Linked DNA regions of Homo sapiens. The protein of the gene in region 2 purifies or fractionates together with the protein of the main gene of each other region. This does not show direct contact. Each region holds a gene or a part of one and is shown on either strand. Other genes may lie near its edges.

What was found. The genes of interacting proteins can lie anywhere in the genome.
Region 1: the proteins of NDE1 (region 2) and DCAF13 purify together in Homo sapiens (affinity purification with mass spectrometry; one large-scale study listed by BioGRID and IntAct). This does not show direct contact.

The regions. Positions count from the first base shown.
Region 1 is NC_000008.11:103,424,581-103,429,898, reverse strand, and holds part of DCAF13 (DDB1- and CUL4-associated factor 13), read right to left. Parts: intron 3,844-5,318; coding exon 3,754-3,843; intron 2,803-3,753; coding exon 2,647-2,802; intron 1-2,646. UniProt on the Homo sapiens protein: Part of the small subunit (SSU) processome, first precursor of the small eukaryotic ribosomal subunit.
Region 2 is NC_000016.10:15,666,005-15,671,322, reverse strand, and holds part of NDE1 (nuclear distribution protein nudE homolog 1), read right to left. Parts: intron 4,038-5,318; coding exon 3,884-4,037; intron 1-3,883. UniProt on the Homo sapiens protein: Required for centrosome duplication and formation and function of the mitotic spindle. Essential for the development of the cerebral cortex.

The DNA.
Region 1 (5,318 bases), on a different chromosome or scaffold from region 2:
ATGAACAATTTTATGGCTTTTGATATTTAGGGCTAATTATTTTTCCAAAGAGCTGTACCAGTATACACTACAATGTGGGATATGTCCATTTTAATGCAACTGGGCAGCACTGGGTAGTGTCATTTAAAAGTGTCATTTAAAATATCTGTATGACAGTATTTCCTAGCTATATAAATTTATTGTTTTATTAGTAAATGTTTCTTCGTGTTGTTAACTCTCTATAAATTAGGCCTGTCTTTTGTCCAACTGTTTGAAGATTTTTCTAATTATTTTATTTGTAAGTCAATTATAAATGTGCATGGTACTCACATAACCCCTTGGCATTAAGTAAAAATAAGCCCTCTATCATCCAGTGGATCCCTGAAACCCTCTCTCTGTAGCATCATTCCTCCTCACTCATGGTTCCTGACACTCACAACTATTGGCTTCTGCCTACAATTACTTCCTATTGCAAGTATGTGGGCAGCAAGAAGAGCTATTTACTAAATAGTTGCATGGCCAGCTAACTCCTCCTACTGTCTGTACGCAATTCAAATAACACATCATAAAGCTAATGTTATGATCATGATTTCCTCTCAGTTCTTTCTGAAAGCCTGCTATCTTAATGGCTGCTTTTCTGAGACTTCCCTAGTGAGGTCCCTCAACCTTTCTTGGCTTCTCATTATGTCGCCTCAGGGTCTGACCAGGTTCCATTTCTAAAAAGAAAGACTTTGATCTGAACAAAGCAAAACAATCTACCTAGACCAAATGCCACCTTTCACACTGTAAAACGTCCCAATGATCAGCATAAACTTTTGGCTTTACCAGAATTCTAGGCTTCAATATTTTAAGAGAAAATTAATTATTAATGATTAGAGGAGACAAATACAAATACACTCCATTTGTTCACAGCAACATGCCCTTTCCATTAAGTTTAAAACAGGATAAGAGACACACACACCATTTACTTTTACCACTAAGTTCATAAGGTTAATAGCAATTAAAAAAAAAAACAGCTGAACAAATACAGCTGCTATACAGGCAAGTTTGAAAAACATGGTCACTAGGTCATCCCTAATAATTACGATTTTAGAATTGGTGATCGGCTCTTCTGACACAGATGTTCACCAAAGCAGAGAAGCAAAAGATTTTTTTGTTCCTCTAAATAGTAAGAACCAGTGTCTGTTTAGGTTTTTTTGTGTTTTTTTTTTAGTACGTAATACCGTCACCATCTTGAATTTGGATAGCACTTTTAAAAAATGTTCACATATGTTATCAACTTTTACACTTGGTCCTGCTCTGCAAAGGTAGCTGCCTTTCCATGCCACTTCTCTCTTCTACAACCAAGGGAAACATAAGGAAGGAAGATGGAGGATGGAGTGAGAAAGATATAATAGAGACAGACACTCCAGACCAGGAATCAGAAAACTTTTTCTGTAAAGGGCCAGAGAGTAAGTATTTTAGGTTTTGTGGGCCATATGGTCTCTGTGGCAATTACTTAACTCTGCCATCATAGCACGAAAGCAGCTACAGACAATATGTACGCAAGAGAACATGGCTGTCTTCTAGCAGAGCTCTATTTACAAAAACAGGCAGTGGGCCACATGTGGCTCACAGACTAGTTTGCCAACCTATTCTAGACCTGTAGCGTCTCTAGAAAGTGTGTGTGTGAGCATGTGGTAGTTGCAGGAAGAGTGTCCTCTGACTTCTCAGTAATTCCTCAAGGCCAAGCTCACATCGCACTGCAGCATCTCATTTTCCAGTATATCATACAAACTATTTTTATACCTTACTATTTTGACTCAACCTTACTTCCTATCTTTTATCAGGTTGGGTCTTTAAGAGCATAACACTTGCATATTAGGATTTTTCTCTCATACTACCTAAAATGGTAGCCTCGCAATAACTGCTAAAATTGGCTTATATATGCTATGATTGCCTTTTCTTTCAACAGGAAAAACATATCCCTACTGAGTCTTCTGGACAATCAGTTCATCTATTGTTATGCATTAAGAAAAAGTTCAGAGAAAGATCTGGAGTCCAAGGGCTAGCTTAGCCTTCAGGACAGCCTCCATTCCTAAATTCAGACCTAAACAGACGACATGTAGTGGCCAATCTCCAACTCTTCCCTTAGGCCTGGAGGAACTGGGAATCACAATTCAGACTTCTGAGCAAAGAAAAATATAACTATAACTAATTACCATGCAGTTCAACAATAATCACAAATGTTTTTATGAAGCATTGGTACCTTACCAATTACAAATAGACAAAATGATGTCCAATGCTCCTTCTTCTGACCTCCAAGGCAGGTAGAAAAATTAACATTTTCCTAAATGTACAATGACATAATCTATGGAACATGAAGTTGAAGGCATGAGTAAAACTAAAGTTAAAACAAGACTATATTTACTTGGATTTTACCCCAATGGGCAAATGCACACACCACTCCTCTAACAATGCTTAACTCTAGTATCTGGGACTAAACTGCTGGGAAACATGTTGGGATTTGAGCAAAGGTATCAGAACTCATTTACAATCGGGAAAACTGACAAAATGCCAAAACACCATTAAAATTCAGAAGTTTCTATCATACATTCAAAAGTTTTCTAAACAGAACTGAAATTATTAAGCCATAATAAGTAAAACATACTTAAAAAAAAACATTACCTCAATTGGGTTAAATTTAACACTACTTATACTGTCAAATCCCCAGGTCATTGAACATATAGGATTAGTTCTTTGTTCATCCCAAATGTCTACTTGCTGTCCACATGTGGCAAAAACAGCTTCTTTCCAGTGATGATCAATCCCAGTATACACTGTCTTTAAAAGCAAAAAGGTTAAGAGGATTTTTTTCATTACTAATTCAAATCTGCAGAATAATATTTTAAATATATTTATCTATACTATCTTTTTAGAGAAAAGCCCTGTTCACAAAGAAACTTCTTTGAAGTCCTTACTTAAAGGGGGAAACAATACCATAATGAGACAAGACATTTTAAGAATGAAACCAATTTTGTTTTAGAAATTACTAACGTGTTTCCAACTACAAATTATCTCTACCTCATACTCATACCCCATTCCCCTATCCCTTTAAGAACATTTAGTCTTCTTGAAACCTAAAGCAGAACCTAAATATTATATACTAACCATAATATTGAAACGACAAAGTGATTTTTAAAAGGTAGATTTAATTTAAAGATTAAATCTAATTTTGGAATTGTTTGCTTAATATAAAAATGTAAACATTATAAAACATGGATAGACCAAATGTTCTAAATTATTCTTATGCTAAAACTAAACCACCCATCACCTGATTTGCAGAATAATTTGGTAGAAACATTAATAAGATTTATACATGATGCATAATACTATTAAATTTCTTCATTTCTTAAAGGAGTCTTTCAACTAAGAAATTCTGAGTTTTGTGTAAGATCTATGATGACATCAACTAGACAAGCTGAAGCATTTTCTGAACTTCTATCTTTTTCTCCGTGGTCTTCCCATGGGAAATGTTTCATTGTATCCTCTGGCTAAAAACAGAAATCAAACTCTACTACAATGAATACCAAAAAAAAAAAAAACTGTTAAAATTCTTTAGCATCAAAGGACTTTAGCTGCATTAAATATTGCGTAAATGGGTCAACAATTACAGCCTAAAGTCTTTCGTTTCTTATCTGCATCTTCTTCCCCATCTTAGGAAATTATAACTATAAAATAATTTTAAATAAAAGAATGTTAATAGGCAAGCTATTAGTCAATTTACTTTTGTACCTTTCCTAATATTGTATGTAATGGCTCTTCCTCGTCTCCATAGCCTGGCCCATCCATTTTCCACTGCTTCACAGTTTTGTCATCACCAACCTAGAAATATTTGTTTTATTATGATGATGGTAAGGAACAACAGTTATAAATTAAAACTTGCCAACACATATCAAATAAGTATCTTGTTTAAAACAGGTAACATACCATATCATTCCAGTATTACACTTATTGATCCATTTATATCCCACCTTGTTTTAGTAAAGATTTGTGACAAATACATAAAGTACATAAAACTAAAAATATAATGAGTAGAGCAAAAGAAAAACAAGAACAGGGGCAAAGTTAGGTCATGCATATTGTGATAAACATGGCATTTCAACTTGGAGAAAAAATGGATTATAAAAAATGGTATTATAATATCTGGTTAGTCATTCAAAAAAATTGAGCCAATTTGATGCCTTATGTGAAAATAAAATTCCAGGTAATTTTAAATGTAAAAAATAAAATGAAAAACATGAAAATACTGGAGAGAAGGCATTGTTATAATATTGAAATAGATAAAGTCCTTTTCTGCATGAACTGCAGAAACTACTAAGTCAGTGGTTTTCAAACTGTGAACTTTGGGCCTCTGGAGGACCCTGAGAACTTTTCAGGGTCCACACAGTCAAAACTATTTTCATAATGTTAGTAAAGACATAGTTTGTCTTTTCACTGTGCTGACAGCTGCACAAATAGTAAAAAAGCAACAGTGAGCAAAACTGTTGGCACGTTAGCCCAAATCAAGGCAAAGCAACAAACTATGGTAATTTAGACATGGGTATTTGGCAGACATGTTTAAGCTATCAGGTGAAACAGACTACAAAACAGAACATATAATGTAGTTTGAGGTTGAAAACAAAATCATAAATGTGGTACTGTATAACTGCATACATACAAAACTGCTAGTTTTAACTTAAAATCTTACATTTATATATTAGATGCAATCTATATCCACTTTTTGATAAAATCATTAACAAAGATATCTTTATCTAAGGGAAGAGTATGAATGTAGCTCTTTTCTTACAGCAAATTCAAAAAGGAAAACGCTTCTTGCAAAACAGTTTACAGTGCCCATGAGATGAAAACAGATAAGTGATCAGGAAAGGTTTTGGTACTAAGATTACACAGCGATGTCTTTTGTTGAGGATGTCGATGAACAGAATCCTTAACTACATCCTTGTTATAGACAAAAAGTATTTAATAGGGCTACATCTTATTAACAACTATGAATCTGAGCCACTGGCACTATACTAAAACTCAATTCTAGAAACCTGATTCTACTGGGAGACTAAGATGTAATCTAGGTACCAGGTCTTGACTGATCTGGCTTGACCCAAAGAGACATTTTAGCACTTACAGAATACAGGATAAACTGTGTCCCTGAGCACCCCGTTCCTGAAGACGCTATCCCTCCATCAAGTTTCTGATAGTGTCTGCAAGCTCAAGACTGAATTTGCTTGTAAATGACCAAGCTGTTCTGCCGTCTACTGAGTACAAACCTCAGCGGACCACCAATTCTGGGAAGGGTTTTCTCA
Region 2 (5,318 bases):
TATGTTGCCCAGGCTGGCCTTGAACTCCTGGTCTCAAGCAATTCTCCCTCCTCAGCCTCTCAAAGGGCTGGGATTACAAGTATGAACCACCATGCCTGGCCAGAAATCCATCTTTTTACAGGAAGCTTTACAAATTTTGATGGATGGGGGAATATATATAATAAAAGGCAAGTAAGTAGGGGAAATATTATTGGTAGAGCCTAGGTGGTGGTGGATACACAGGTATTCACTGGAAATTCTTTCAGCCTTATATGCTGGAAAACGTTCATGGGGAAATGCTGAACAAAAACCCCTGAAGGCGATCAAACAACACCTATGGGGCAGATGGATCTGCAGACGGCCAGCTGCACTCTGTGGTCTCCAACAGAAAGCTTCAGCTTCAATGACCACCTTCAACGTGTCTGGGACCTCTCCTCCGCCCTGCCCCAAACCCCCAATCCATTTGTTGGTCCCACACCCTTTCCTATACATTAGTAAAGCTGGGCTTGCCAAGGTCCACCCGACACCCATTCTTGTCCACGTCTGTGATGGGTACAGATCAACTCTCCTTCAGCCCCATCTCCCCAAGCACCAAGTGTCAGCAACACATACACCTACAAACACCCTCCACACAGCCTCCCTCAACCCATGCAGTCCTTTCTTTTTCTTTCTTTTTTTTTTTTTTTGAGACAGAGTTTCGCTCTTGTTGCCCAAGCTAGAGTGCAATGGTGCAATCTCGGCTCACTGCAACCTCCGCCTCCCGGGTTCAAGTGATTCTCCTGCCTCAGCCTCCCAAGTAGCTGGGATTACAGGCACATACAACAACACCCAGCTAATTTTGTAGTTTTAGTAGAGACAGGGTTTTGTCATGTTGGTGAGGCTGGTCTCAAACTCCCAACCTCAGGTGATCTGCCCACCTCGGCCTCCTGAAGTGCTGGGATAACAGGCATGAGCCACCGCACCCAGCCAGTCCTTTTTCTCTTGAAAGGCCCCCACATCAGAGTTCTGTGACTGAGCTTCACGTCCCCAACTGCTTCATGGCATTAGGTTTGTCTTCCCAAAGAAGGCAACCAGCACTTCCCCTTTCACCGTCCATCATACCTAGCCCTGGGCACACACAGTTTTGACTCTTCCATGAAGCAGCTCATCAAAATGTACATTGGGAGTTTAATGAGAAAAAGAAAACCACACAGACATGCCAGGGCCCCACCCAGACTTACTGAGAAATGGAATCTCAGAGCAAGGCGGGGAGATGGGGATGGGGAGAGAGGGTTCAGGCCTGTCGGATGTTTATGAAGCTGGCCTAGTGATGCTGGCTGGCAGCTAAGGCTGAGAGCCAGTCTCTGGGGCACGGTGTTGACTTAGTGATCCCTTGCTGAGCCCTACAGCATGTACAGAAGGGATGGTTTTTACCTTGCAGAGCACTGGGTCTCCAGATACCTGGCTATGTCTAGAGGTGCTTTTGGTTTTCACCACCTTGGAGGTGCGGGGAATGCTACTGGCATCTAGAGGGTGGAGGCCAGGGATGCTGCCAAACATCCCACAGTGTGGTCAGGCGGGGTGACTCATGCTTGTAATCCCAGCACTTTGGGAGGCTGAGGCGGGCGGATCACCTGAGCTCAGGAGTTCGAGACCAGCCTGGCCAACATGGTGAAACCTCGTCCTTGCTAAAAATACAAAAATTAGCCGGGCGTGGTGGCTCACACCTGTAATCCCAGCACTTTGGGAGGCTAAGGCGGGTAGATCACACTGTCAAGAGATCAAGACCATCCTGGAAAACATGGTGAAACCCCATCTCTACTAAAAATACAAAAATTAGCCAGGCATGGCGGTGTGTGCCTGTAATCTCAGCTACTCAGGAGGCTGAGGCAGGAGAATCACTTGAACCCAGGAGGTGGAGGTTGCAGTGAGCCGGGATTACGCCACTGCACTCCAGCCTGGCAACAGAGTGAGACTGCGTCTCAAAAAAAAAAAAAAAAAAAATTAGCCAGGCGTGGTGGAGGGTGCCTGTAATCCCAGCTACTCAAGAGGCTGAGGCGGGACAATCACTTGAACCTGGGAGGCGGAGGTTGCAGTGAGGTGAGATTGTGCCACTGCACTCCAGCCTGGGCAACAGAGCAAGACTCCATCTCAAAAAAAAAACAGGCTGGGCACAGTGGCTCACGCCTGTATTCCCAGCACTTTGGGAGGCTGAGGCAGGCGGATCCTGAGGTCAGGAGATCAAGACCATCCTAGCTAACACGGTGAAACCCCGTTTCTACTAAAAATACAAAAAATTTAGCCAGGCGTGGTGGCAGGCGCCTGTAGTCCTAGCTACTCGGGAGGCTGAGGCAGGAGAATGGTGTGAACCTGGGAGGCGGAGCTTGCAGTGAGCCGAGATCGCGCTACTGCACTCCAGCCTGGGCAACAGAGCAAGACTCCATCTCAAAAATACAAAACAAACAAACAAAAAACCCACAAAGCAAACCTCAGTCCCTCCCAACGGAGGATGATCCGGGCTCCAATGTCAACAGCAGCCAGGTCGAGAAACCTGCTCTGAACTGGCAGAGTGCAACACACCTTTTGGTAATGAAGGAAATGGTCTGCAGCCCCTCTGTCCACTAAGGAAACTCACTGGCCACACGTGGCTCCTAAGCACTTGAAATGTGGCTACTGTGACTGAGGAATTAAGTTTTTATTTTAATTCATTAAATTTCAACAGCCAAATGTAGCTAAGGGCTACAATATTGGACCTGATGATATTACTCTAGCAACACCTCCATACCCTAAAAATGTCTCCCTGGCCAGGTGGTGGCTCATGCCTATAATCCCAGCAATTTGGGAGGCCAAGGCAGGAGGACTGCTCGCGTCCAGGAGTTCAAGACCAGCCTGGGCAACACAGCGAAACCCTGTCTCTATAAAAAATACAAAAACTAACCAGGCATGGTGCCGCATGCCTGTAGTCTCAGCTACTCCCGAGGTTCAGGTGGAAGGACTTTGGTTTTTTTTGAGACGGAGTCTCGCTCTGTTGCCAGGCTGGAGTGCAGTGGCACAATCTCAGCTCACTACAGCCTCCAACCATCAAGTGATTCTCCTGCCTCAGCCTCCCAAGTAAGCTGGGACTATAGGCGTGTACCACCACGCCCAGCTAATATTTGTAATTTTAGTAGAGACAGGGTTTCATCATGTTGGCCAGGATGGTCTCAATCTCTTGACCTCGTGATCTGCCCACCTCAGCCTCCCAAAGTGCTGGGATTACAGGTATGCACCACCTCGCCCGGCCCAGGTGAGAGGACTGCTTAAACCTGAGACGTCCAGGGTGCAGTGAGCTGTAATCCAGCCACTGTACTCCAGTCTGGGCAACAGAGCAAGACCCTGTTTCAAAAAAAAAAAAAAGTCTCCCTGCCATGTGCCCTATAAAATCAGTGTACACAACCAAGAAAGTCCACGGGAACATGTGTGTGACTTGCTTCTCAAAGCTCCACCCATCATGGATCCCGAGGTCAGGAGTTCGAGACCAGCCTGGCCAACATAAAACCCCGTCTCTACTACAAATACAAAAAAAATTAGCCAGGCGTGGTAGCAGGCGCCTATAATCCCAGCTACTCAGGAGGCTGAGGCAGGAGAATTACTTGAACCTGGGAGGTGGAGGTTGCAGTGAGCCAAGATCGCGCCACTGCCCTCCAGCCTGGGCAACAAGAGTGAAACTCCATCTCAAAAAAAAAAAAAAAACAAAACAAAAAGCACCACCCACTAGAGGCACAAAGAGTTCAAAGATCACGTCTGCCGCACAGGCCCTTCCAGAGATGAGCATGGGCCTGGGGTCTGGAGTCCCTCATTGCAGGGTTCCTTCTTCCAGCCAAGCATGCCATGCCTGTGTTGGACGCCTGTCTACACCTGAGCACACTTCCTCTCAGCCCCTCACCTTGATGGTTTCCAGCTCCATGCGAAGGCGGTTATTTTCGGACAGGAGGTCTCTGTTCCTGGTTTCAATTTGTTGCAGCTGCGTCTCCAATTCAGCTTCATATTCTCGGCTTCCCTCCTGGAATTCTCGGAGTTCCTCTTGCGTATTTTCTGCCCTACAGCAAAATTGTTAATCATCACGTAGTAATATTTTTGAAGACAGAGTCTCGCTCTATCACCCAGGCTGCAATGCAGTGCTGCAATCTCGTCTCACTGCAACCTCTGCTTTCCAGGTTCAAGCGATTCTCCTGCCTCAGTCTCCCGAGTAGCTGGGACTACAGGCATGCGGCACCACACCCAGCTAATTTTTGTATTTTTAGTAGTGACGGGGTTTCACCATGTTGGCCAGGCTGGTCTCGATCTCCTGACTGGAGGTGATCTGCCTGCCTCGGCCTCTCAAAGTGCTGGGATTACAGGCGTTAGCCATTGTACCTGGCCAAATTCAAGGAATATTTTAAAAATATCAAGCCTGAATTACCTTTAAGTCAAACTAGAATAAAGAAAGTAGGAAGGGCTGGGTACAGTGGCTCATTAAGAATTACTTGAGGCCAGGAGTTCCAGACCAGCCAGGGCAACATAGTAAGACCTCATCTCTACAGAAATGTGTTTAAAAATCAGCCAGACATGGTGGCACACGCCTGTAGTCCCAGCTACCTGGGAGGCTGAGGCAGAAGGATCACCTGGGGTCCCAGGGGTTGCAGTGAGATAGGTCACACTTGTGAAGAGCCAGTGCAATTCAGCCTGGGTGACAGAGTGAGACCCTGACTCTAAAATAATTTTTATTTATTTATTTGAGATAGAGTCTTGCTCTGTCACCCAGACTGGAATGCAGAGGTGTGATCATGCGTCACTGCAGCCTCGACCTCCCAGGCTCAAGCAATTCTCCCACCTCAGGCTCCCAAGTAGCTGAGACTATAAGAACATGCCACCATGCCTGCTAATTTCTGTATTTTTTGTACAGACAGGGTTTTGCCATGTTGCTAGAGCTGGTCTCAAACTCCTGAGCTCAAGTGATCTGCCTACCCAAAGTGCTGGGATTACAGATGTGAGCCACTGTGCCTGGACCTAAAATAATTTTTCAATAAATGAAAGAAACTAAGGGGACTGGAATAAGGCCTCTATGTACAAATTATAAAGACCCATTATAAATAAAAACAGTGCCAAACCAAACGCACACACACACACCTCCCAGATATGAGCCCTGACCAAAACACGAGTTTCAAATCTTAAAATCTTTAGCAATATATTTTGCTAGGCATAGGGAAAAGCTCTTTCCCTGTGCACAAAGAACTTACCAGATATGGCATCTAGGAACTGATAAAAACCCTTCTAGAAAATAAGATGGACACCGGGCGTGGTGGCTCACGCCTGTAATCCCAGCACTTAGGGAAGCCGAG